Regions from separate parts of the Homo sapiens genome. Here regions 2, 3 and 4 are each linked to region 1. The links come from fine-mapping of genetic effects on gene expression. A gene starts in region 1. Each other region holds a variant in brackets. All regions are shown on one strand. Distances are between the middles of the regions.

Region 1 (5,000 bases):
ACATGCAACAACATGGATGAATTTTAGATACTTTATGACAGATGAAAGAAGCCAGACTGAAAAGGTGTCATACTGTATGATTCCATCTATATGATATTCTGGAAATATCAAAACTATAGGGACAGGCCAGGCGTGGTGGCTCATGCCTGTAACCCCAGCACTTTGGGAGCCTGATGCTGGCAGATCACCTGAGGTCAGGAGTTTGAGACCATCCTGGGCAACATGATGAAACCCTGTCTCTACTAAAAATACAAAAATTAGCCAGGTGTGGTGGCACGTGCCTGTCATCCCAGCTACTCAGGAGGCTGAGGCAGGAGAATCGCTTGAACCCGGGAGGCGGAGGTTGCAGTGAGCTGAGATTGCACCACTGCACTCCAGCCTGGGTGATAGAGCGAGACTCCGTCTCAAAAAAACAAAAACAAAAACAAAAACTATAGGGACAGAAATCAAGTCAGTGGTTGCCAGTGGATGGGGTGAGGCAAGAGGGAATTTGGGGGAATGAAATTGTCCTATAACTAGATTGTGGTAGTAGTTACATGGTTATATACATTTATTTATTTTGTTTTATTATTGTTTTCTTATTATTTGTTTGTTTGTTTTGAGATGGAGTCTTGCTCTGTCACCCAGGCTGGAGTGCAATGGTGCAATCTTGGCTCACTGCAACCTCCACCTCTCGGGTTCAAGTGATTCTGTGCACCACCACGGCCAGCTACGTTTTGTATTTTTAGTAGATAGAGACGGGTTTTACCATGTTGGCCAGGCTGGTCTCGAACCCCTGACCTCAAGTGATCTGGCAGCCTCGGCCTCCCCACGTGCTGGGATTATAGGCGTGAGTCACCATGCCCAGTCGTTTATACACATTTATCAAAACTCACTGCATCATAAATTGCAAGAGTAAATTTTACTGTATGTAAATATCTTAATTTTTTAAAGGAAAAAAAAAGTCCAAAATAAGTAGCTATAATTACCTTTTCCTTTTAGAAAAAGGCATTCATATTTTCTGAGCATGAGAGAACTACAGGCTCATTGTAGACATTTGGGAAAATGTACAAAGGATGTACATTCATCACGTGCAGAAAAGTAATATTTCCTTGCTGTGAGCTTTATTGGCACAGAATACACACAAAGCTGGGACCATGCTATGCATTTTTTAAATGAAATTATACATTTTGCTTTCTGAAATATATTGTGCATATTTTTCATGTCATTAATTTTCAAAATCATGATTTTATGAATCAATAATATTCTATGTTTACTTAAGAGACAGAGTCTCCCTTTGTGGCCCAGGCTGGAGTGCAGTGGCGCAAAGGAATCATTCCTCACTGCAGCCTCAAACTCCTGGGCTCAAGCGATCCTCAGTGGTGGGATGAGATCTAGACCCCTGATATTCAATCTCAGAAAGTCAATAATTCCCTGCCTCAGCCTCCTGAGTAGCTGGGGCTGCAGGCCTGTGCCACTGCACCAGGTTCAATGTATATTTTATTTTGTCTTTTTTTTCTTTTTTTAATGTATATTTTTTAGCATTCCTTTGTTGTTAGAAATTACATTGTTTATATAATTATTATTTGTCAATTAAAAATAAAAGAAAAAATCATACTGCTCCTATTTTTTACTTTGAGCAACTCTGATAACAACAACAAAAAAAAGTTCAGTGGGGCCAACGCGTTTCCCTCCTGGAGTTTCCCGGTTCACCTGGTGGAGCGGGTCCTCCTTGGGCTGCAATTCCCTCCTTCTTTTCAGTGTCTGCAGGAAAGGTGGTTTCACAGGGTGATCGGTGATCTGGCTTATTTGTTCCTTTGTGGGGGTAAGGGCTGGGCACCTCACTATTTCCTGTATTACCAGCTTGAATTTACATCGCGCTGTTAATGTTTAATCCTCTCCACATCGACGCGGGGTAGTAATTTGTTCCAAGTCACACAACTTATCAATGGTGGACTATTCAGGACTTAGATCCCGGATATTCAACCTCAGTAAACGTCTCCCCAGCTCCAGGGCGCTGCGTCATCTGGCTTTAAAAAAACGTTTCTGGCCGGGCGCAGTAGCTCACGCCTGTCATCCCAGCACTTTGGGAGGCCGAGGCGGGCGGATCACGAGGTCAAGAGTTCGAGACCAGCCTGGCCAACATGGTGAAACCTCGTCTCCACTAAAAATACAAAAATTAGCTGGGCGTGGTGGCGGGCGCCTGTAATCCCAGCTACTCGGGAGGCTGAGACAGGAGAATCGCTTGAACCCAGCAGGCGGGGTTGCAGTGAGCCGAGATCGCGCCGTTGCACTCCAGCCTGGGCAACAAGTAAGACTCCGTCTCAAAAAAAAAAAAAAAAAAAAAAAAGACGTTTCTCCCCATAAGGAGGCTGCAGTCACCTCGAAAAGCTTCTGCGCAGAGCCCGGCGCACGGGGAATTTCTATCGAGTGGGCACTGTCCCGTCCTACGAATGTCCTTGGCGACATCGCCACTCGCCAGCTGGGATCACGTCGCCCCCGTGGCCGGGGACACCCGCTGCCACTGACCGAGGGGGCCCCGGGAGCTGAGAGGTCGCCGCTGCGCTGCCCGCGGAGGCTGTGGGCTGCGGTTGGCGACGCCGCAGGGCTGACTTTCATCCGGGCGTCCTGCTGGAGGCCAGACCCTACCCCAACCTCGGGGTCCTCAGTGCGGGGCGCGCCTTGGGGAGGGAAGAGGCCCCGCCCATCCTAAGGACGCGCTGAGGCCACGCGGGGCCGCCGGGATACTGCGTTGCCCGGGAGACACCTGACGTGACAGGAACGCCGCCAGTCTCAGTCCGCCGTGATCCCACAGTTCCCCGGTCCCGGAAGTGCCCTGGCCTGCCGGAAGTGCCGGAGCGGCTGACAGAGCGGCTGACGGAGCCGGGCTCACCAGGTCGCTGCCGCGAGGGAGTTGCTGTGCTGGGGCCTGGGTGGCGGCTGGAGGCCTGAGTTGGGCTCGCGGCGGGGGTCGGCAGGGGGCCGGGTGGCGGAATGATGGAGGAGGAGGAACTGGAGTTCGTGGAGGAGCTGGAAGCCGTGCTGCAGCTCACGCCCGAGGTGCAGCTGGCCATCGAGCAGGTAAGCGTTCCGCCCCTCAGGAGGGGAAACGGGAGTGCGGGAGGGGAGACGGCAGCTCCGGGCGCTGGGGAGGCCGCGGCGGGTGGACGGAGGGCCGGGGGCTCGCGGCAGAAGGGAAAGTGGAGGTGGGGAGGTGGTGCGGGTGAGAAGCGGTTTCTGAATCAGAAGGAAAGGAAAGAGAACCCTTTCTAGGCTTTGATTGTCTTTGGCGAGGGCTGGGGGTTCTGGTGGTTTTGGGGAAAGGAATTGTGCGCTTAGAGAGGACGACGCTAGGAGAATGCAGGCCTTGGGTGCCATCCTCAGATTCTGGGGACTGTGGGGGCTTCATGCATTTACCAGACTCGTGCCAACGCCCCGGTTTTGCAAGCTGGCACCTCGTGAGTGGCTTGGAACTGGGGGAAGGGAATGACTTTAATTTCTGAAGCGGACGGCAGAGAAGAGAGAAAGTGTTGAAAAATGACATCGTTACCATTCTTAAAAGGTTGAGAATTCCTACCGTTGAATAGTTTGGGTGAGGTTGGAGAATACTCCCAAGGGGCCTCTTTTCCCTTCAGGAACTTTTTTTTTTTTTTTTTTTTGAGACGGATTCTCGCTCTGTCGCCCGGGCTGGAGTGCAACGGCACGATCTCGGCTCACTGCGACCTCCGCCTCCCGAGTTCAAGCGATTCTCCTGTCTCAGCCTCCTGAGTAGCTGTGATTACAGGCGCACGCCACCACACCCGGCTAATTTTTTTTTTTTTTTGGGGTAAAGACGGGGGTTTCACCGTTTTGGCCAGGATGGTCTCGAACTCCTGAGCTCAAGTAACCCGCCCGCCTTGGCCTCCCAAAGTGCTGGGATTACAGGCGTGAGCCACCACGCGCGGCCCTGCCTGCAGGAACTCTTGCCTTTGCAAGTTTATTGAGTTTTTAAGGCTAATGATATTAGAAATAGTGATTTTTTTCTTTTCTTTTTTTCTTTTTTTTTGTTTTCTGAGACGGAGTCTCGCTCTTTCGCCCAGGTTGGAGTGTAGGGGTGCCATCTCGGCTCACTGCAACCTCCGCTTCCAGGTTCAAGTGATTCTCCTGCCTCAGCCTCCTGAGTAGCTGGGACTACAGGCAACCGCTACCATGCCTAGCTAATTTTTGTATTTTTAGTAGAGACCGGGTTTCACCATGTTGGCCAGGCTGGTCTTGAACTCCTGACCTCAGGCTATCCGCCCGCCTCGGCCTCCCAAAGTGCTGGGATTACAGGTGTGAGCCACTGCACCCGGTCAGAAATAGTGATTTCTAATACTGCAGGGTATTGCTCCTGATAAACGGAGAAAATCTCCCTTAAAGGAATTGTCATGAAGTTATATGATTTAAGAAAGGGATTTATGATTGAGGAAATGGACAATTCCATTATGCCTTATTTAATGACCCCTGGGAAACTTTTTTTTTTTGAGATAGGGTCTTGCTCTGTTGTCCAGGCTGGAGTACAGTGGCATAATCGTAGCTCACTGCAGCCTCGAACTCCTGGGGCTCAAGTGATAACCCTGCCTCAGCCTCCCGAGTAGCTGGGACTACAGGTGCATTCATTGACGCTTCGATGTGTGTTTTTCCAGTAGTGGTTGGATTACTTATACAACCAACTTTGTCCTAGCCTGAGAACGCCAAACCATTGGGCAGGAAGCTTTTAGTGTTCCGGCCACACGGCTCCACCACTTACCTCCTTTTGCCAGAAAAAGACATAACATTTCTGTTGCTCTTTGGACTAGTGGGCTCTCATGGAAGAAAAGAATAATGCAGTCAGTTACTGTTTGGTTGACAGGTATCAGAAAAGCACATTTTTGCTATTTCTTTTGTTTGTTTCAACAGCTTTTGGGGTACAGGTGGTTTTTGATTACATGGATGAATTACATAGCGGTGAATTCTGACATTTTTCCTATTTTGTAAGAATAAGTTTGAGTGATAGTATAGCA
Region 2 (5,000 bases), 190 kb after region 1:
GTGAAACCCCCGTCTCTACTAAAAATACAAAAATTAGCTGGGCAAGGTGTGGTGCGCCTGTAATCCCAGCTGCTCGAGAGGCTGAGGCAGGAGAATTGCTTGAACCTGGGAGAACTGCTTGAACCTGGGAGGTTGCAGTGAGCTGAGATTGCGCCACTGCACTCCAGCCTGAGTGATAGAGACTCCGTCTCAAAAAAAAAAAAAAAAAAAGAATATAAATTTAGCAAGGTTGCTGGCTATAAGGAAAGTGTTTTAAAATATATTTCTATATACCAGCAGCAAACAATTTAAAAATGAACATTTTTGAGTGAAATACTTTTTTTTTTTGCTGTATTGCCCAGGCTGGAGTGAGTACAGTGGCACAATCATAGCTCACTGCAGTCTCAATTCGTGGGCTCAAGCCATCCTCCTGCCTCAACTTCTCAAGTATCTGGGACTACAGGAATGTACTACCATGCCTGGCTGGCTCTTTTTTTTTTTTTTTGGTAGATATAGGGTCTGCCTCCCTGTGTCTCCCAGGCTGGTCTCAAACTCCACCCTCCTCAGCCTCCCAAAGTGGTGCGATTACAGGCGTGAGCCATGGCTCCCAGGCCTAAATGAAATCATTTACAATAACATCAGGAAACATTAAATACCTAGGAGTAAATTAAAAATGTACAAGTCTTCTACACAGAAAACTGTACAATATTAAGACACAGAATCCATAAAGACCTTTAAAATGACAGGATAGCTCATGTTCATTGATAAGAAAGACTCAAAAAGAAATACATATGGAGTCTTTCTGAGCCTGCTCTGGCTGAGGAGGCTGCCCAATAAAAAATAAATAACAATTTAAAAAGCGGCAAATTATTCCAAAATTAATCTATAGATAGAATTCAATCCTAATTACTGTATCAATTTATCTATAGATACAGTAGAATCCCAGCAGGGGTGTGTGTGTGTGTGTGTGTGTGTGAGTGTGTGTGTGTGAATTGATATGCTGATTTTAAAAGTTAGATGAAAATACAGAAGACAACAGCCAAAATAATCTTAGAACAGAATTGGAGGAGTTAAAGCTCAGGATATCAAGACTTATTGCAGCAGTATTGTAATTAGAGCAGTGTGGCACTGGCCCCAGGGACAAAGAGGCCAACAGAACAGATCTGAGCTGAGGGATAGACCCACACATGTGTAGATACTTGATTTATGACCAAAGTGGCATCATTCAAAGAGAGTCTTTTCAGTAAATAGTGCTGGGTAATTGGATATCCATATCGGAAAAAAATCTTGACCTTTGCCACACACCATATATAAAAATCAATTCCAAAGAGGATTTGGTGAAATTAGAACACTCATACATTGCTGGTGGTAATGCAAAACGGTACAGCCATTTTGGAAAACAGTTTGGCATTTACATAGAGTTACCACAGGGCCCAGCAATTATACTCCTAGATATATACCCAAATGAATTGAAAAAGGCAGGGTGCATGGTTCACACCTGTAATCCCAGCACTTTGGGAGGCTGAGGCAGGCAGATCACCTGAGGTCAGGAGTTCGAGACCAGCCTGGCCAACATGGTGAAAACCCACTTCTACTAAAAATACAAAAATTAGCTGTACATGGTGGTGTGCACCTGTAACTCCAGCTACTCGGGAAGCTGAGGCAGGAGAATCACTTGAACCTGGGAGGCAGAGATTGCAGTGAGCCAAGATTGCGCCACTGTACCTTCAGGCTGGGTGACAGGGTGAGACTCTGTCTCAAAAAAAAAAAAAAAAAAAAGAATTGAAAAAAAAATGTGTTCACACAAAAGCTTGTACACAAATATTCATAGCAGCACCATTTATAATAGCCAGAAAGTAGAAACAACTCAAATGTCCATCAGCTGATGATAAACAAAATGTGGTCTATCCATACAAGGGAATATTACTCAGCCATTAAAAGGAATAAAGTACCCATTCATGCTACAACATGGAAGAGCCTTGAAACCATGTTAAGTGAAAGAAGCCAGACACAAAAAGCCACCTATTGTGTGACTCTGCTTCTGTGAAATGTCCAGAACAGGCAAATCCGTAAAACAGAAAGTGGATTAATGGTTGGCAAAGGCTGAGGGAGGGGGAGATGGGAATGGCTGCTAATGGGTAAGGGTTTCTTTCTGGGGTGATAATGTGTTCTGAAACCAGATAATGCTGACAGCTGTACAACCTTGTGAATAGACCTTAAAAACCACTGAATTGTACACTTCCAAAAGGT[A/C]AATTTTATGGTTTTTGAATTATATCTCCATTTTTAGAAAATTAATCCCAGATGGATTATGGCTCTAAAAAATAAGGCAATAAAGCTTCTGGAAGATTTAATATAAGACAATATGTTTATGACCTTGGGTTAGGCAAAGATCCCTTAAACAAAACATTAAAAGCACTAACCATAAAAGAAAAGATTGGTTATTTTGAGTACTTAAAAGACTTTGGCCAAGTGCGATGGCTTGTGCCTGTAATCCTAGCACTCTGGGAGGCTGTGGCAGGAAGACTGCTTGAGCTCAGCAGTTTGAGATCAGCCTGGGCAACACAGCGAGACCCCATCTCTACAAAACAATTTAAAAATTAGCCAAGTGTGGCACGTGCCTGTAGTCCTAGCCACTCGGGAAGCTGAGACAGGAGGATCAGTTGAGCCAAGGAGTTCAAGGTTGCAGTGAGCTATGATTGCACCACTGCATTCCAGCCCAGGTGACAGAGTAAGACCCTGTCTCTAATCATAATAATAATTTAAAAGAGTGATGATACCAAGTGTTGGTAAGGATGTGGAGCATCTGGAACTTTCATATGTGCTGGTAGAAATGGAAGTTAGCCCAGCCACATTGGAAAACTCCTAGGCAGTTAGCCAAACATATGCCTACCCCATGATCCAGCAGTTCTACTCTTGAGTAGCTTCCACCCTAGAGAAATGAGGACTTTATGACCACCAAAGGCATGCGCACGAATGTTCACAGCAGGTTTATGAGCAGGAAACAAGCTACAGTGAGAGAGAGCAGGAGAGACGAATGTTCACAGCAAGTTTATGAAGCAGGCAACTAGCTACAGTGAGAGAGAGTAGGAGAGACGAATGTTCAGAGCAGGTTTATGAGCAGGCAACTAGCTACAGTGAGAGACAGCAGGAGAGTTTGTTGAGAGGGAAAGGAGAGCATTGACTGGACGAGAGCATGAGGAAGGCTTCAGGGATGCCAGAAGTGTGCTCTGTCTTCCGTTAGGCAGCAGGATGTGCACATGTCTGGATGTTGATCAAATGGCATACGTGGTGTTTGTGTACTCTGTGAAAGTTATACCTAATTTTTTTAAAAAGAAAAAGAAATAGAACATGTGTCCACCTTGTTCCATCCCTCCTGATAGCCTGAGCTGTCTCCCCTGTGCCACCTCATTGAAGAATTTTCTATGGTGGGACCAATATGGTTCACCTATGTGGTTTTGTTCACATGGTTCTTTGTCTTCTAGGAGTGTGGGCCTGTATCTTATTTACGCAAAATTTTCATCACTGTTGATAGTCATCATGTCCCCAAGAATTGTAGGAGGCTCCTCGGGAAGTAAAGGGCCCCTCTCAAAGATTTCCATTGCTGGGTGATCAGCCTTCACAGGCATGGCATACTGGCCACCCTTGCACCCCCACATCCCATCAACAACATTAGCCAGCCCACACTGCCCCAGAAATTATCGCTGAGGCAGAAATGAATGTGGCAATAGCCACCCCTTGCCCAATGTCTCATGCCTAAGAAGATGAATTATCAACTATTTCAAAGTTGAAAACTAGCAGATTTTCATGATAAATGGGACCTTTCTGTCTTGTCTTTGCACAGACAGCCGCCAAATCTGTCAGGCTCATTCCCGCCTTTTCTGACTGCCTTGCTTTATGTATAAAACCTGAGACCAGGGTTTTCACCTCTCAGTGTCTGGTAAAGACAGAATTTTATGGTGACTGGCCAGGGAATGAAAGTGTCATATCTCCCTGTATATGAGGGACACTAGAGAATTATGCCTGGTGCATTCAAACCCTTCCTGTCATTTAAGACTGTACAATTATTTATGCATATAATGTATCTCTGGGAAGTAGAAAAGTAGGAAATATCTCCATATGCTTTAAAATATAATGACTGATTTTTTTTTTCCTACCAACAAATGAATGCTAAGACATGGCTTTGATTTTGACAAGGCTCTCAAAATTTGCTACATGGAAGACAGAGTTGAGTCCTGAATGGTAGTCTTTAAACAAAAATTCCAGTTAATTAATGTACAGAAAATAATGTAAAAAACAGTAACTAACTACTCAGCTCAGCAAAATATGTAACATGTTTCCACATTTACTTTACATCTTTTTTTTTTTTTTTTTTTTTTTTGAGAAAATGTCTCACCGTGTTGCCCAGTCTGGAGTACAATGGCGCGATCTCGGCTCACTGCAACCTTCACCTCCCGAGTTCAAGCAATTCTCCTGCCTCAGCCTCCCGAGTAGCTGGGATTACAGGTGTGCACCACCATATCTGGCTAATTTTTGTATTTTAGTAGAGATGGGGTCTCACCATGTTGGCCAGGCTGGTCTCAAATTCCTGACCTTAAGTGATCCTCCCACCTCAGCCTCCCAAAGTTCTGGGATTGCAGGCATGAGACACCGCGCCTGGCCCATTTTTTTTTTCTTTTCTTAAGAGACAGGGTCCCACTCTGTCTCCCAGGCTGGGGTGCAATGGTGCCATCATAGCTCACTGCAACCTGGAATTCCTGGGCTTAAGCCATCTTCCCACCTCAGCCTCCTAAGTAGCTGAGACTACAAGTGTGTGCCACTGTGCCTGTCTAATCTTATTATTTTTGTTTTTGTAGAGACAAGGTCTCACTGTGTTGCCCAGGGTAATCTTGAATTCGTAGCCTCAAGTGATCCTTCTGCCTCAGCCTCCCAAAATGCTGGGATTACAGGCATGAGCTGCCACACCCTGCCTGCTTTAGATCATTTTTATGTAAAGTAAATCATTACAGTTATTGCTGAAGACC
Region 3 (5,000 bases), 160 kb after region 1:
AAGGACTCATTGTATGTGAATTGATTTGGGCCATGTCCAGCCTTTACTTCCCCCTTTTCTGTATCTTAAAATAATGTAGTTTCCAGTTCAGGAAGCAAATTAGAAATTCCATGCTGACTTGTTCCTGTTCCTTTTCTTCAGAACCACAACCAGCAGTGGAGGACTGACTATCAGCAGCCTCCTCAAGGAAAAGGAGGGCTCAGAAGTAGCCAAGTTCACTCTGGAGGAGCTCTGCCTCATCTGTAACATCCTGAGCACGGCAGAGTACTGTCTGGCCACCACCCAGCAGGTGAGCCATCCTGGCTGCCCACTCACCACCTCCTTTTCCTGAACCCTCTGGGCTGCGTCGCTCGGCGAGTAAGAATATACGTCCTAACATGGCCACAGACAACCTTGGGTCAGACCAGTTGGCCTGCCACAGAGGAAAGCTCAGTGTCCAGCCATAAGGCTGCCCAGGCAGCTGTCTTACAGAAAGGCCTTGTTAAAAGAAGACTGGGCAAGAAAGTATGACTGGTCACCTCCCTGGAGTTGTGTAAGCTCCTCAAAGGGCATGACCTGTTAAAAGTAGGTCAGTAGCACTCCAACCCATATGAGAAAAGCAGTAACAAGCTTGTCTGTGCTAGGACCCAGCCTTTGGTGATGATGAGTCACAGCCAGTTATTCCATGCTCAGAAGTGTTACTAAGTTAAGCAGAATCCTTTGGGCTTTTATGTGTCTTCTGAAATTTACATGGCATTTTCAATCTGCCTCAACAAATAGCCATTGTTTGGGATGCTGACGTTTAGGAACTGGGGGACAGGAAAGGGTGATGCCTCTGCTGGAGGCCCCCACATGGCCATAGTTCAGCAACTGATGGAGCAGAAGGAAGACCCAGAATAACCTTTGATTCAGCCTTAAACATGGAATTAGAAGTCCTTTTCACACTTGGTCTGGGATTCCCCTGAGGCCAAGAGAAAGAAAGTAATTTGGAAAGGTTCTGCTCTTCTACCCACTTTGTATTTATAATTTACAGATGCCTAGACCACAAGAAGACAGTCATAAATGATAGTTCAGACAGCCCAGCTTGGAGCTCCTGTGTGCCAGGGCAGCAATATAGCAGGTCAAATAGGAAGTGTGTCTACCAAGGCCCCTCAGTGGCACATAAGCCAGCCAGAGGCAGAGGCAGCAGCACACTCTGCCTGGGGACCTGGTCATGTTGAGTTGCGAAGGTCATGACCTTCCAGGGTTTGGCCTTGGAGCCACAGAGCAGTCCGTTTAGCCCCAGGCCACTCCCCAGGTAAGATGGCACTATCTGTAAGGACCTCCAAGGCAGGGGTTCCAGAGTTCTTTCATGAAGAAACACTGTTTAACTATTTTGGGTGTGCACAGAAAGAAATACGATACATGTAAATATGCTATTTTAAAGGTAAAATAACCGTAGTATTTAAAAAAATAAAGATCCCTTTTAATCCCATCATCCTCAAATAATCATATTAGCAATTTGGGGTATTTTTTCAATTGTTATTCATAGACATAGTTTTGAATGTTACAATCTTAATTCACTGTTATATCCTTTTATTGTTAGTGTCATACATAGCATTAGCATTTCTCCTGTCATTATAATGATAGTAATAATCATAACTATCATTACAGGGTCATTATTACTATCATTGTTTATGGCCACATAATATTTCTCTTTAAGGGACTATACCATAAATTATTTATTTATTTATTTATTTTGAGACAGAGTCTTGCTCTGTCTTCCAGGCTGGAGTGCAGTGGCCATGATCTTGGCTCATTGCAGCCTCCACCTCCCAGGTTCAAGCAATTCTTCTGCCTCAGCCTCCTGAGTAGCTGGGATTATAGATGCCCATCACCATCCCCGGCTAATTTTTGTATTTTTTTTTTTTTTTTAGTAGAGATGGGGTTTCACCATCTTGGCCAGGCTGATCTCCAACTCTTGACCTTGTGATCCACCTGCCTTGGCCTCCCAAAGTGCTGGGATTACAGGTGTGAGCCCCTGTGCCCGGCCTTGTACCATAACTTATTTAGCAAGCATCCCTGATCGTTGTTTATAGTGCTTCAAATTTTGCTTTTTTTTTGAAACAGAGTCTCTCTCTGTCACCCAGGCTGGAGTGCAGTGGCACGATCTCGGCTCACTGCAAGCTCCCCCTGCCGGGTTCTCGCCATTCTCCTGCCTCAGCCTCGCGAGTAGCTGGGACTACGGGTTCCCATCACCACGCCTGGCTAATTTTTTTTTATTTTTAGTAGAGGCCGGGTTTCACTGTGTTAGCCAGGATAGTCTCGATCTCCTGATCTTGTGATCTGCCCGTCTTGGCCTCCCAAAGTGCTGGGATTACAGACGTGAGCCACTGTGAGTAGCTGGGACTACAGGCACCCGCTACCACACACAGCTAATTTTTTGTATTTTTAGTAGAGACGGGGTTTCACTGTGTTAGCCAGGATGGTCTC[A/G]ATCTCCTGACCTCGTGATCCACTCACCTTGGCCTTCCAAAGTGCTGGGATTATAGGCGTGAGCCACCATGCCCAGCCAAAATTTTGCTTTTATAGATAATCCTGGCAGGGTACAGTGGCTCACGCCTGTAATCCTAGCATATTGGGAAGCCAAGGTGGAAGGATCGCTTGAGGCCAATAGTCCAAGACCAGCCTGGGTAACATAGTGAGACCTGGTCTTTACAAAAAATTTAAAAGTTAGTTGAGTGTGGTGGTACATGCCTGTGGTCTCAGCTACTTGGGAAGCTGAGGTTGGAGGATCGCTTGAGCCTGGGAGGTCAAAGCTGCAGTGAGCTATGATCACACCACTGCACTCCAGCCTGGGTGACAGAGTGAGACCCTGTCTCTAAAAAAAAAAAAAAAAAAAAAGATAATCCTTACAAAGAATGTCTTTCTGAATATAGCATCTTAAATGTTTTGCATTAGTTTTCTAGAACAGACTCTTAGAAGTTCTAGAAATAAGTTGAAGACCATTTTGATGACTGATGATACAAGTGGCCAATTATTTTTTATTTAGTGAAAATTGTTTTTATTGATTACAAAAGTAATACATTCTTAGCACCTTTATTGTGATCTCTAAATACAATTTTCCACTAAAAGAAACCAGAGATTCCTGGAGAAATGACTAATTCCAGGTCAAGGGCAGGAAATCTACAAGATGAATCAGAACATCATGTTACACAAAAAGCAAGAAAAATATCAAAGACTATTAGTGTCATCTCAAGAGGACCCAGGGAGATATAGTGGGTTGAAGTGTCCCCCCAACCCCAAAATATGTCCAAGTCCTAGGCCTTGGGACATGTAAATGTGACTTTATCTTGGTAAATGTAATTAAGTATCTCAAGATGAGATGGTCCTGGATTTAGGATTGGTGGGGGGCCTTATCTAATGACTGTTGTCCTTAGAAAGGAGAGAGAGATTGAACACACAGAGATACAGGGAAGAAGGCCGTGAGAAGGAGGCAGAGGCTGGAGTCAGACTTCTATGAGCCAAGGAACATCAAGGATTGCCAGCAAACACCCAAAGCTAGAAGAGAGGTGTAAATAGTTTTTTCCTCAGAGCTTCCAGAAGAGTGGGGGCGCGGTGGCTCATGCCTATAATCCCAGCACTTTGGGAGGCTGAGGAGGGTGGATCACTTGAGGTCAGGAGTTTAAGACCAGTCTCGTCAACATGGCAAAACCCCGTCTCTACTAAAAGAATACAAAAATTAGCCGGGTGTGGTGGCTTCTCACTTGGCAGTCTCATTCCCCAAGCCTCAGGTCCCCGCTTCAGTATCACCTCCTCAGAGAGCCCCTCCTGGCCACCCCCCTTCAGCAGAGAGGCCCTCCTGGCCACCCCCCTTCAGTAGGTAGCTCCCTTATTCCAGCACTGCCAAATTTATTTCCTAACACCACAAAACCGAAGTTACGTCTCGGCTGGCTTACTTCCTTATTATCTGGCGCCCCCATTAGTTTTAAGTTACATGCCAGAAAGTCTACTTTGTTCACCTCTGTTCATTAGCACCAAATACAATGCCTGGTACGTAATAAGTGCTTAATAAAGATCTCTTGAAGGAATAAAAGAGCCCACTCCTGAGATAATGGCATTAACCCATGATGATGCCAGAGCCCTCATGACCTCATACCTCTCAACACTGTGGCTTCAGGGATTAAGCTTATAACCCATAAACTTTGGAGAACACAATCAAACCACAGAACGATGTTATGAATTGCTATTGTAAATAGTTTTTAAAAAACATAAACTACACTTTTAAGGATACTTTTACATTTACAGAAAAATTGCAAAGATCGTTTGTATGGTTCCCATATACCACTTACCCAGTTTCCCATATTATTAACATTGATATGAAATATTTGTTACAATTAATGAACCAATAATGATGTATTATTGGTGTTGCTTTTAAATTTTATTTTCCAATTCCTTGTTGCTCAGATTCTTTTTGTTTAATATGGGGTCTCAATCTGTTGCCCAGGCTGGAGTGCGGTGGTTTGATCACAGCTCACTGAAACCTGGAACGAAAGCGATCCTACCCTCAGCCTCCCAAGTGGCTGGGACTACACTGGGACTTCAGGCACCTGCCACCATGCCTGGCCAGTATTTTTTTATTTTTTGTAGAGATAGGGTCTCACTGTGTTGCTCAGGCTGGTCTTGAGCTCCTGGGCTCAAGTGATCTTCTTGCCTCAGCCCCCAAAGAGTTGGGATTACCGGGTGAGCCACTGGGTCCAGCCTGCTCAGATTATTAAGTCTCTGGTTTCTTCTTCCATTTCCCTTTGCCCCCTCTGCAATCTTTTCTTAAAGAAACTGTGTTGTTTGCCCTGTAGATTTTCCCAAGTTTTGGATTTTCCTGATTGCACCCACGAGTATTAATGGACATTTTACTTTGTCTCGTATTTCCCATAAATTGGTAGTTAGATGTAGAAGCCTGAGCTGATTCAGATTCTTTTTTACAGAAAACTACATCATAATGATGTTTTGTACGTCTGTCATCAAGATACATAATGTTTGGTTGC
Region 4 (5,261 bases), 210 kb after region 1:
TCACCAATGCTCTTCTAGAAAGTCAGCTTCCATCTCAACCACCGTCCTGACCCTGCTCTCGAAGGTCACCAATGCTCTTCTAGAAAGTCAGCTTCCATCTCAACCGCTGTCCTGACCCTGCTCTCGAAGGTCACCAATGCTCTTCTAGAAAGTCAGCTTCCATCTCAACCGCTGTCCTGACCCTGATCTCGAAGGTCACCAATGCTCTTCTACAAAGTCAGCTTCCATCTCAACCACTGTCCTGACCCCGCTCTTGAGGGTCACCGGTGCTCTTCTAGAAAGTCAGCTTCCATCTCAACCGCTGTCCTGACCCTGATCTTGAAGGTCACCAATGCTCTTCTACAAAGTCAGCTTCCATCTCAACCACTGTCCTGACCCCGCTCTTGAGGGTCACCGGTGCTCTTCTAGAAAGTCAGCTTCCATCTCAACCGCTGTCCTGACCCTGCTCTCGAAGGTCACCAATGCTCTTCTAGAAAGTCAGCTTCCATCTCAACCGCTGTCCTGACCCTGATCTCGAAGGTCACCAATGCTCTTCTACAAAGTCAGCTTCCATCTCAACCACTGTCCTGACCCCGCTCTCGAGGGTCACCGGTGCTCTTCTAGAAAGTCAGCTTCCATCTCAACCGCTGTCCTGACCCTGCTCTCGAAGGTCACCAATGCTCTTCTAGAAAGTCAGCTTCTATCTCAACCGCTGTCCTGACCCTGATCTCGAAGGTCACCAATGCTCTTCTACAAAGTCAGCTTCCATCTCAACCACTGTCCTGACCCCGCTCTCGAGGGTCACCGGTGCTCTTCTAGAAAGTCAGCTTCCATCTCAACCGCTGTCCTGACCCTGATCTCGAAGGTCACCAATGCTCTTCTACAAAGTCAGCTTCCATCTCAACCGCTGTCCTGACCTTGCTCTCGAGGGTCACCGGTGCTCTTCTAGAAAGTCAGCTTCCATCTCAACCACTGCCCTGACCCTGATCTCGAAGGTCATCAATGCTCTTCTACAAAGTCAGCTTCCATCTCAACCGCTGTCCTGACCCTGATCTCGAAGGTCACCGGTGCTCTTCTAGAAAGTCAGCTTCCATCTCAACCACTGTCCTGACCCTGCTCTCGAGGGTCACCGGTGCTCTTCTAGAAAGTCAGCTTCCATCTCAACCGCTGTCCTGACCCTGCTCTCGAAGGTCACCAATGCTCTTCTACAAAGTCAGCTTCCATCTCAACCACTGTCCTGACCCTGCTCTCCAAGGTCACCGATGCCCTTCTAGAAAGTCAGCTTCCATCTCAACCACTGTCCTGACCCTGCTCTCAAAGGTCACCGATGCCCTTCTAGCCTGACTCACATCTGTCTTGACCCTTCTCTGGAAGGTCACCGATGCCCTTCTAGCCTGACTCACATCTGTCTTGACCCTTCTCTGGAAGGTCACCGATGCCCTTCTAGCCTGACTCACATCTGTCTTGACCCTTCTCTGGAAGGTCACCGATGCCCTTCTAGCCTGACTCACATCTGTCTTGACCCTTCTCTGGAAGGTCACCGATGCCCTTCTAGCCTGACTCACATCTGTCTTGACCCTTCTCTCGAAGGTCACCGATGTTATTCTAATCTGGCTCACATCTGTCCTGACCCTTCCTTCTCTCGAAGGTCACCGATGTTATTCTAATCTGGCTCACATGTGTCCTGACCCTTCCTTCTCTCAAAGGTTACCGATGCCCTTCTAGCCCAGCTCACATCTGTCCTGACATTTCCTTCTCTCGAAGGTCACTGAGGTTCTTCGTCTGGCTCACATCTGTCCTGACCCTTCTCTCGAAGGTCACCGATGCCCTTCTAGCCCGGCTCACATCTGTCCTGCCCAACTGCAGGATAATGTAACTGTTCTGAGCACGTTTAAGGTAGGCTAGGCTAAGCTATGACATTGGGGAGGTTAGGTGTATTAAATGCATTTTTGACTTAACAATGTAACTTACAGTGGGTTTATTGGGACGTAACCCCATCATCTGTGGAGGGGCATCTGTGTGTGAGTCCCCTCTCCCTGGAATCCTCCTTTAACTGTGTGAGTCCCCCTCTCCCTGGAATCCTCCCTTAACTCTGAGTCCTCCTCCCCGGAATACTCCTTTAACTGTGTGAGTCCCCCTCTCCCCGGAATTCTCCCTTAACTCTGAGTCCTCCTCCCTGGAATACTCCTTTAACTGTGTGAGTCCCCCTCTCCCCGGAATCCTCCCTTAACTCTGAGTCCTCCTCCCCGGAATACTCCTTTAACTGTGTGAGTCCCCCTCTCCCCGGAATTCTCCCTTAACTCTGTGAGTCCTCCTCTCTCCGGAATTCTCCCTTAACTGCTTTACTGGCTCTGGGACTTCTTAGTCTCCTTCCCCAGCTCTCCTCTCCTTCTGAGCCTTGACAGCGGCCAGGCCTCGAGGTCTTAGGCCCCCTGTTTTCATGCCAGGCTCCTGAGGACTTACCTGCCATCACAGGTGCAAACACCAGCTACACCTGAGCTCCCCCCAATTTTCAGTTCCTGTCTTCTAGCCAACTCCCATCATTAGCTTATATGCACCATCTCGAGGTAAGCTCAGCTTCCTTCCTGAATCCCCCATTTTTCTTTTTTTCTTTTCTTGTCTCTCTCTCTTTTTTTTTTTTTTTTTTT[TTTTTTTG/G]AGACAGGGTCTTATTCTATTGCCCAGTCTTGTCTCAAACTCTTGGGCTCAAGTGAGCCTCCCGCCTCGGCCTCCCAATGTGTGGGGATTACAGGCATGAGCCACCGCACCCGGCTGAATTCCCCATTTCTAAATGGCTCCACCTTCCTTTCCTAGGGCCTCAATCTCAACACCTTACTCACCCCTAACCACTCTGGCTGTCAGCCAATATGGTTAGTTTATCATAACATTTTTTTCTTAATGATTACACAGAGAACAGTCACAGAAATCAAAAGAAAATCTTGCCCCAACAAATCAAGAATGGAAGTCCCAGGAAGCCCGCACCGGCGGGTCTCGGTGTGCGGAAGCCGGAAGCCATTCTCTGCTGCTCAGGCGGGTCTCGGTGTGCGGAAGCCGGAAGCCATTCTCTGCTGCTCAGGTGGGTCTCGGTGTGCGGAAGCCGGAAGCCATTCACCCCTGCACCGGCGGGTCTCGGTGTGCGGAAGCCGGAAGCCATTCACCCCTGCACCGGCGGGTCTCGGTGTGCGGAAGCCGGAAGCCATTCTCTGCTGCTCAGGCGGGTCTCGGTGTGCGGAGTCCACTCTCCCTGGGCTCCCGGCTGGGCCTGCTCCACGCCTCTTTCCGTAGGGTTTCTCAGAAGGAGCTAAAGAGCCTGGCTCCAGCGGGTCTCTTCTCAAAACCGACGACACTGATGGCTCAGTGTGGCCTGTGCTGCTATTACCCTATAATATTGCAGTAGCAATGCTCATTTTTAAAGTACAGTGGGGCCGGGCGCGGTGGCTCACGCCTGTCATCCCAGCACTTTGGGAGGCCGAGGCGGGCGGATCACGAGGTCAGGAGTACAAGACCAGCCTGGCCAACATGGTGAAAGCCCATCCCTACTAAAGATAACAAAAAATTAGCCAGGCATCATGGCGCACACCTGTAATCCCAGCTGCTTGGGAGGCTGAGGCAGGAGAATCATTTGAGTCTGGGAGGCGGAGGTTGCAATGAGCCAAGATCGCGCCATTGCACTCCAGCCTGGGCAATAGGCGAGACGCCATCTCAGGGGAAAAAAAAAAAAATTAGCCAGTTTTGGTGGCACATGCCTGTAATCCCAGCTACTCGGGGGGCTGAGGCAGGAGAATCACTTGAACCCGGGAGGTGGAGCTTTCAGTGAGCTGAGATCATGCCAGTTCACTCCAGCCAGAGTGAGACTGTCTCAAAAAACAACAACAAAAAAAAAACCACTACATGGAAATATATCAGAAGTCCTACTCTCCTGTGAAGATTTCTCTGTATCTGTATGTGGGAAAAAGGAGATACTTTGTCAAAGGAAAAAAAAAAAAAAGAAATTAACATGAAGCAGGCCCCCCCACCTGCCAGATAACAAAATCCTGGATGCTCAGGTCCCAGGCCCCGAGTCAGCCCTGTGGAACCTGTGGGCACAAAAATTTGGGTCTTGACTTCTCAGCATCCTGAGAATTCTGTATTTTCATTCCAGAGTTGGTTGAATCTGTAGCTGCAGAACTGGCAGATGCAGAAGGCTGACTGTACATCTTGGACTTTTCCCTTGCCATGTATAGATCTACTCATTATTTTTAATGGCTGCTTGGTGCTTTATAGCTCAGCTATGCCATCATTTTTTTTCTTTTTTTTGAGACGGAGCCTCGCCCTGTCCTCAGGCTGCTGGAGTGCAATGGTGCGATCTCGGCTCACTGCAACCTCCTTCTGCCAGGTTCAAGCGATTCTCCTGCCTCAGCCTCTTGAGTAGCCGGGATTACAGGCGCCCGCCACCACGCCTGGCTAATTTTTGTATTTTTTAGTAGAGACAGGGTTTCGCCATGCTGGCCAGGCTGGTCTCAAACTCCTGACCTCAGGTGATCTGCCCTCCTTGGCCTCCCAAAGTGCTGGGATTACAGGCGTGAGCCACTTCACCCGGTCCCATCATTTATGTCATCAGTGCTATGGTTTGAATGTATATGTCCCTCCAAAATTCTTATGTTGAAAGTGAATCCCCGATGTGATAGTATTAAGATGTGGGGCCCTTAGGAGGTGGTTAAATCATGAAGAAGGGGCCTCAAGAATGGGATTATGACCTTATAAAGAGGTGCAGGGGAGCTGTGTGACACCCTGTGACTTTCTGCCTTCTGCCATGTAACAAGCAACATGGCGCCATCTTGGAAGCAAAGAGCAGCCCTCACTGGGCACGGAGTCCGTCAGCACCTGATCTTCGACGTCCTGGCCTCCAGAGCTGTAAGGAACAACGATCTACTATTTATCAATTAGTCCGTGGCATTTTATTGTAGCAGCGTGAATACACTGAGACAGCCAGTCTTCTAGCAATATAGCCAAAAGGCTGTGTTTAGTTTTTTGGCATTAGACTCACATCATCTGTGAAAATCTTTCTGCAAATGTCTTTGCTTGCTTGTACTCACATTTTTGTAGGACATTATCCTAAAATGGTTACATTTCCACTTAAAATGATTAAGGCTGGGCATGGTGGCTCACACCTATAATCCCAGGACTTTGGAAGACCAAGTCAGGCAGATCACTTGAGCCCAGGAGTTTGAGAGTGACCTGGGCAACACGGTGAAACCCCATCTCTACAAAAAATTATCCGGGTGTGGTGGTGCGCTCCTGTAGTC

Alleles and levels. Positions count from the first base shown, and alleles are read on the strand shown. Sizes are in standard deviations (SD) of each study's normalised expression. Not every link is listed here.
As copies of G replace TTTTTTTG in region 4, the expression in B cells of the gene that starts at base 2,844 in region 1 goes down (large effect, 0.86 SD a copy in Schmiedel 2018).

What was found. PIP is the estimated chance that this variant, and not a neighbour inherited with it, causes the effect.
Region 2: its variant is fine-mapped to the expression of VPS53 in whole blood (TOPMed, PIP above 0.99).
Region 3: its variant is fine-mapped to the expression of VPS53 in whole blood (TOPMed, PIP 0.95).
Region 4: its variant is fine-mapped to the expression of VPS53 in B cells (Schmiedel 2018, PIP 0.94).

What each region holds. Positions count from the first base shown.
Region 1 is chr17:712,683-717,682 of GRCh38, reverse strand. VPS53 (VPS53 subunit of GARP complex) reads left to right here and starts at 2,844. Exons shown (of 22, transcript NM_001128159.3): 1 at 2,844-3,060. The coding sequence starts at 2,974. RefSeq lists an enhancer at 2,303-2,372.
Region 2 is chr17:525,354-530,353 of GRCh38, reverse strand. All of the region lies in intron 19 of VPS53 (VPS53 subunit of GARP complex), which reads left to right. All of the region lies in intron 1 of VPS53-AS1 (VPS53 antisense RNA 1), which reads right to left. Among named protein-coding and RNA genes, the nearest start is that of VPS53-AS1, 5.1 kb to the right of the region's middle. The variant A/C (reference allele first, on the strand shown) is at 2,230.
Region 3 is chr17:555,715-560,714 of GRCh38, reverse strand. It overlaps VPS53 (VPS53 subunit of GARP complex), which reads left to right. Exons shown (of 22, transcript NM_001128159.3): 15 at 142-289. It overlaps LOC124903891 (a long non-coding RNA gene), which reads right to left and starts at 4,831. Exons shown (of 2, transcript XR_007065571.1): 1 at 4,696-4,831; 2 at 4,375-4,499. RefSeq lists an enhancer at 1-714. The variant A/G (reference allele first, on the strand shown) is at 2,452.
Region 4 is chr17:500,955-506,215 of GRCh38, reverse strand. No RefSeq gene overlaps it. Among named protein-coding and RNA genes, the nearest start is that of VPS53-AS1, 19 kb to the left of the region's middle. The variant TTTTTTTG/G (reference allele first, on the strand shown) is at 2,628.